Homo sapiens: one gene and its partner. The protein of the gene in region 2 interacts with the protein of the main gene of each other region in a pairwise test. Each region holds a gene or a part of one and is shown on either strand. Other genes may lie near its edges.

What was found.
Region 1: the proteins of LDAF1 (region 2) and ZNF391 interact in a two-hybrid assay, tested with the Homo sapiens proteins (one large-scale study listed by BioGRID).

Annotation. Positions count from the first base shown.
Region 1 is NC_000006.12:27,391,604-27,395,258, reverse strand, and holds part of ZNF391 (zinc finger protein 391), read right to left. Parts: intron 243-3,655; exon of another isoform or gene 164-242; intron 1-163.
Region 2 is NC_000016.10:21,168,626-21,172,280, forward strand, and holds part of LDAF1 (lipid droplet assembly factor 1), read left to right. Parts: intron 1-1,811; coding exon 1,812-1,980; intron 1,981-3,655. UniProt on the Homo sapiens protein: Plays an important role in the formation of lipid droplets (LD) which are storage organelles at the center of lipid and energy homeostasis. In association with BSCL2/seipin, defines the sites of LD formation in the endoplasmic reticulum.

The DNA of each region.
Region 1 (3,655 bases), on a different chromosome or scaffold from region 2:
GCTTCACCTCCAACATTGGTGATTACAATTCAACATGAGATTTGATGGGGACATATACTCAAACCATATCATTCTGCTCCTGGCCCCCAAGTCTCAAGTCCTCACATTGCAAAATACAATCAGTATTTTTAGGGGACTGCTCAATAGTCCCCTAAAGTCTTACATCATTCTGGCATTAACTCAAAAGTCCCAAGTCCAAGTCCAAAGTCTCATCTGGAGATGAATTTCTTCCACCTATGAACCTGTAAATCACAATTTATTTACTTCCAAGATACAATGGAGGTGCAGGCATTGGGTAAACACTCCCATTGTAAAAGGGAGAAATCAGCCAAAAGAAAGGGGCTATAGGCTCCATTCAAGCTTGAAATGCAGCAAGGCAGTCATTAAATCTTAAAGCTCCAAAATAAGCTCCTATATGTCCCACATCTAGGGCACAATGATGCAAGGGGTGGGTTCCCAAGGCCTTGGGCAGTTCCACTTCTGTGGCTTTGCAGAGTTCAGCCCCATGCTGCTCTCCCAGGTTGTTGAATGCCTGTGGCTTTTCCAAGCACAGAGTCTAAGCTGCTGGTGGATCTGCCATTTTGGGGTCTGGATGGTGGCCCCCTTCCTACAGCTCCACTAGGCAGTGCCCCAGTGGGGACCCTGTGTGGGGCCTCCAACTCCACATTTCCCCTCTGGACTGCCCTAGTAGAGGTTCTCTAAAGGGGCTTCTGCCCCTTACAGCAGGCTTCTGCCTGGACACCCAGGCCTTCTCATACATCCTCTTAACTCTAGGCAGAGGCTTCCAAGCCTCCTTCACTCTTGCACTGTGCATATCCACAGGCTTAACACCACATGGAAGCCACCAAGGCTTACAGCTTCTACCCTCCACAGCAGCAGCCTGAGCTGTACCTGGGCCCATTGGAACCATGGCTGGAGCCTGAGCAACCAGGATTTAGGAGCAGCCTCCTGGAGTGGTGCAGGGCAGTGGGACCCAGGATCTGGCTCTGAAATCCTTAAGTCCTCCTGGGCCTCTCAGCCTATGATGGGAGGCATCGCCTCTTAGATTTCTGAAATGCCTTTGAGGCCTTTTTCCTATTTTCTTGACTATTAGCACTTGGCTCATTTTTAGTTATGCAACTCTCTATAGCAAGTGGTTGCTCCATGGCCTGCTTGAATTTCTCTGCTGAAAAAGCTTTTTTTTTCTTTCCTCTGCAAATTTTCCAAACTTTTATGCTCTGCTTCCCCTTTAAATATAACTTCCAACTTTAAATCATTTCTTTGCTTCTACATCTGAGGACAGATAGACTGTTAGAAAGAGCCAGGCTACATCTTCCTTTGCTGCTTAAAAATTTCTTCTGCCAGATACCCTAAATCAACACTCTGAAGTGCAAACTTCCACAGATCCCTAGGGCAGGGGCACAAGGCAACCAAGTTCTTTGCTAAGGCATAACACACATGACCTTTGCTTTAGTTCCCAATAAGTTCCTCATTGCCATCTGAGACTTTGTCAGCCTGGACTTCACTGTCCATATCACTATCAGCATTTTTGTCACAAACATTTAACCAGTCTCTAAGAAATTCTAAACTTTCCCTCATCTTCCCATCTTCTGAGCCCTCCAAACTCTTCCACCCTCTGCCTGTTACCCAGTTCCAAAGTTCCTTTCACATTTTTAAGTATCTTTATAGCCAAGCCAGCTCCTCAGTACCAATTTGCTGTATTAGGCCATTCTTGCATTGCTATAAAGAAATACTTGAGGCTGGGTAATTTATAAAGAAAATAGGTTTAACTGGCTCACAGTTCTTCAGGCTGTACAACCATGGTGATGGCATCTGCTCAGCTTCTGGGGAGGCCTCAGGGAGCTTTTACTCATGGTGGAAGGCAAAGGGGGATTAGGCACATCACATGGCAAAAGCAGGAGAAGAGGTGGAGAGGTACCACACACTTTTACACAACCAGATCTCATGAGAACTTATGCATTATCACAAGAACAGCACCAAGCTCTGAGGTATCAATCTGTAAGATCCAATCACCTCATTGTCAGGGTTACAATACAACTTGAGATTTGGTGGAGACACATATTCAAGCCATATCATACTGTACAGTGCAAGAGTCTCAAAGTGTAGTTGTTTTTTCATTTCAAATAAGCTCATTATATATACAACTGTATTATGCATTAGATGTGTTTGTGCATGTGACACATATGATAGACACATACAAACTCCACTAGGGAAACTTTCTACCTAGAAAAAATGAAAAAAGAACTTGTGAAAGGAATCTAACTTGGAAGTAGTCTCCAGAAATGGTCTTTCTTTGGGCCTGCCTATTCTAAGAATTGTATGAATATTGACTCATTTATTGTTCACAATAACTCTGAGGGGAATTATTATTATTCCTGCAATACAAAAAAATAGTGTGAAGTACAGAGAAGTTAAGTAATTTGGCACAAGGCCAAGTAATAAATCCTAGATTCAAACTCATTATACTATACAGTATGTGTTGCTTCTCAACAGACAGGGAAAGAATGCCTGAATCACACTTTCTGTTTAGCGGCCTGTAAATGGCCAAGAAACTAAACTCCACTGATGTCAGAAGGTTATCAGCATGATCTTGACTTCAGAGTGCTGTAGGGGTATAGAGAGTGACTGCCTCCCAGACCCAGTCCCTGAAAGGCTGCAGTAAATCTCAGCCTCACTAACAGCCCTATCTATGTAACCGATGGAGTAAAGTCTCTGGCTTTGGCTCATACCTATAATCCCAGCACTTTGGGAGGCCGAGGTAGGCAGATCACCTGAGGTCAGGAGTTCGAGACTAGCCCAACATGGTGAAACCCCATCTCTAATACAAATATAAAAATTAGCCAGTCATGGTGGCACACACCTGTAGTGCCAGATACTCAGGAGGCTGAGGCAGAAGAATTGCTTGAACCTGGGAGGTAGAGGTTGCAGTGAGCCAAGACTGTACCACTGCACTCTGGCCTGGGCGACAGAGCAAGACTCCATCATCTCAAAAAAAATAAAATCAATAAAGTCTCTGGCCTCCACTGAAGTGCAAGTGGCATCCTCAGCACAATTCAGGGAAACATCAGATAGAGGCCCAGAGCTATAGGCACTGACTAGGTAATCTGGATTTTGGTTATAGCTCCATTGGTAGCTATATAGAAACCAGGGAAAAATAAACAATCTGGTTTTATGTCTCCTCACCTGCAAAATGAAGATGCTGGACTTGATTGGTCCAAAGCTATCGGATACCTAGTAGTTTAACTTTAGATCCCAAACTTTGAGGCACATAGCCATCTGCTTAGACTAAGGGGAGAGAACTAGAATGAATCTACTCTTTTTCAAATCCTCGGAGACATGTAAGATCTCAAGGTCCGTGTTTCAGATGAAACCATTCAAGAAATAGGCCAAAAAAAAGCCTGTGTTCATTAATCATCTAATGATGAATTAGAGTGAGGGAGTGTTGAAGATATTAAGGACAGTCAACAGGCAAATGAAGAATAGTCCCCTTGGCAAAATTTGGCAGACTCATCTAAGAACGGAAGTTCCTTTAAAAGAGAAATAAATGTGTCTCTGGTTGGTATGATGAAACACACGTTCAGAAAAGAGGGAAGAATACTTAACTCATGTGGAATATGGATCTTATGGAGAGGTAGACAGTTGCCTTTCCATCTTC
Region 2 (3,655 bases):
ATTAGTATAATATATCTAATATAATTATACAATATTATAATTATGATTTTTATATTACATTACAATTATATTTTTATATATAATTATATATATATTTTTAATATTATATTATATTTTTATTTTATATATTATAATTATAAATATTTTTATATTTATATTTTTATAAATATAATTATATTTTTATATAAAATTAAATATAATTTAATTTTATATAATTATAAATATTTTTATATTTTATATTTATAATTATAATTTATATTATATATTTATATTTATATATTTATATTTATTTATATTTATATATTTAAATATTTATATTTATAGTATATATAATATAATATATTATATTATATATAATTATAAACATATATAATTATTATATTATAATTATAATTATAATGCTTTTAATAGTAATAATACTTTTAATAATAATAGACAAGTGATTAGCTTTTAATGCTAATCACTTTAATAATGCTTTTAATAATAATAATGCTTTTAATGCTTAATAATAGACAAGTGATTAGCTTTTAATGCTGAGATTTTGCAACTTGGAGGCTGTGCGACTCTAGACAAGTGACTTAGTTCATTGCTTCTCAAACTTTAATGTGTATGCACGACACCTGGGGAATCTTGTTTAAAAGGCAGTCTGATTCATCAGGGCCTGAGATTCTGCATTTCCTTTTTTTTTCCCCTTTTTCTGGAGACAAGATCTCCCTCTGTTGCCCAGGCTGGAATGCAGTGGTGCAATCCATAGTTCACTGCAACCTCAAACTCCTGGGCTCCAGTGATCCTCCCACCTCAGCCTCCCAAGTAGCTAGGACTGTGGGTATGTGCTGCTATGCCAAGCTAGTTTTTAAATTTTTTGTAGAGATGGAATCTTGCTGTGTTGTCCAGGCTGGTCTCAAACTCCTGGCCTCAAGCAATCTTCCTGCCTCGACTTCCCATAATGCTGGGATTACAGATGTGAGCCACCACGCCCAGCCAGATTCTGTATTTCTAACAAACTCCTAGATGATCCAAGTAGCTAAGCCTATTTGTGTCTGAGTGGCTTCAACTATGAGAACCTCAGCTGTAAAGTAGGAGGCAGATGGTATGTACCTTACATCAATGCACCTTTATGCCGAAGAGGTCTTCTCAAGAGTGTGTTTGGCAGGAGAGCCATGACTGGGTCTTTCCTCCTTTCACAAGGCTTGACCTTGGGTGGGGACCTCAGACTTGCCACCTCTCCACAGCTGCCTAAGATAGCTGCCTGGGTGACTCATGTCTTGGGAGAAGTCTTGTTGTAGTGACTTTTTTTTTTTTTTTGAGACGGAGTTTCGCTCTTGTTATTCTTATTATCATTTTTGAGATGGAGTCTTGCTCTGTCTCCCAGGCTGGCGTGCAATGGTGTGACCTTGGCTCACTGCAACCTCTGCCTCCCAGGCTGGAGTGCAATGGTGCAACCTTGGCTCACTGCAACCTCTGTCTCCCAGGTTCAAGCAATTCTCCTGCCTCAGCCTCCCCAGTAGCTAGGATTACAGGCACACACCACCGTGCCTGGCTAATTTTGTATTTTTAGTAGAGACGGGGGTTTCATCATGTTGGTCAGGCTGGTCTCAAGCTCCCAACCTCAGGTGATCCGCTCGCCTTGGCCTCCCAAAGTGTTGGGATTACAGACATGAGCCACTGCACCCGGCCTGTAGTGACTTGTTAATGCATAAGCCTTCTGGCTTTACGACTTCTGCCTTGTAATTCCCACAGCTTGGGCAGATTCATTCAACCTGGGGTTCCGATGTGTTACTTATCCCTGGCTCTTTGTCCTTTGCCTACAGGTGGTGGCCTTTATGAAGTCTCCAGTGGGTCAGTACTTGGACAGCCATCCGTTTCTGGCCTTCACCTTGCTGGTGTTCATTGTCATGTCGGCCGTTCCTGTTGGATTCTTCCTGCTCATCGTGGTGCTTACCACCCTGGCTGCTCTGCTGGGGGTCATAATATTGGAAGGTAGCCTGTTCCGTCATTCACCCCTTTAGAAAATAATTCAATTGGGAGAAAAATACTTTTGGGGCCATTTAAAAATTTTTTTAAGGGGCGGGGTCTTGTTATGTTGCCCAGGCTGGTCTCAAACTCCTGGGCTCAAGTGATCCTCCCACGTCGGCCTGCCAAAGTGCTGGGATTATGGCCATGGGCTACCATGCCTGGTTGTCTGCCATTCTTGTCAAAATCACATCAAGCAAGGCAACTTATCAGAGTAGGTAAAACATAGACTCTGGAGCCTGCATTCAAATCCCACCTCCACCACTGTGATTTGGGGCAAGTGGTTTACCTCTCTGAGCCTTAAATTCTTAATATGTAAAATGCAGATATAATAATACAATCTCAAAAGGTTGTTGTGAAGATTGAAACTTATGGCTCCATAAAGTCCTTAGCACAATACACAATACATGTCACAGAGTAGCTTCTCAATGAATGCTAGCTATTATTATTAAGCAGAGAGGCCATTCATTCCACAGTGAGTTATTGGGCACCTACTGCATGCCAGATGCCTCGCTAGGTACTGGAGACCACCTTCATCCTTCCTCCTGAAGTTCCACTACCAACAGTCAACTTCTCCCTGTATTCCTAAGTTAAAATTACTGGGAAAGCAAATCTGATTTGCTCACTTTGACTTTTCAAATCAGATCACACACCCCAGGCAAGTGGCCAAAGAGATGGTGGCCAGTGGGTCAGGTGATCACTTCTGGTCCATTCCGTGGCTTCCCAGAGCTAAGAGCACCCAGGGCTGTTTATTTGCCCCAGGGACAAGGCAGTTTACACTTGAAGGAGAAAGTAGGCATGGTCAGTGGATGAGCCAAATACAGCCTGGCAGAGTGGTTTTTGAGTAAATGTTGATAGATAGATGGGTGAATGCATGAATGAATGGATGGAGGAATGAATGAGTACCATAAGAAAGGAAATTTATAGAGAAAGGAGAGAGCCATTACATTTTGGTGGTACCATGCAAAGCTTTACAGCAGACAAGACTTTAAGGATGCATAACAACTTTGCCTCAGGGTGGGCAAGGAAGGGCCTTTTGGACAGGGGAACAGCATGTGCAAAGCCTCTAGAATAGTGGTTCTTGAACCTGAGTGTATTTAAATCTTTTTTTTTTTTCTAGATGGAATCTTACTCTGTCGCCCAGCCTGGAATACAGTGGCATGATCTCAACTCACTGCAACCTCTGCCACCCAGGTTCAAGAAATTCTCCTGCCTCAGCCTCCCAAGTAGTTGGGATTACAGGCATGCCCCACCATGCCCGACTAATTTTTGTATTTTTGGTAGAGATAGGGTTTCGCCATGTTGGCCAGGATGGTCTTGAGCTCCCGACCTCAAGTGATCTGCCCACCTCGGCCTCCCAAAGTGCTGGGATTACAGGTGTGAGCCACTGCACCCAGCTCCAAGTGTGTATAAATCTTACTTTCTTTATCAAAATACAGACTTTGGATCTTTTGAGACCAGGAGTTCAAGACCACTCTGGGCAACATAGCGAGATTCCCTCCATCTCTTTAAAAAAAAAAAAAAAGAGGCCGGACACAGTGGCTCATGCCTGTAATCCCAACACTGGGAGGCTGAGGAGGGCAGATCACTGGAGGTCAGGAGTTCGCGACCAGCCTGGCCAACATGGTGAAACCCCATCTCT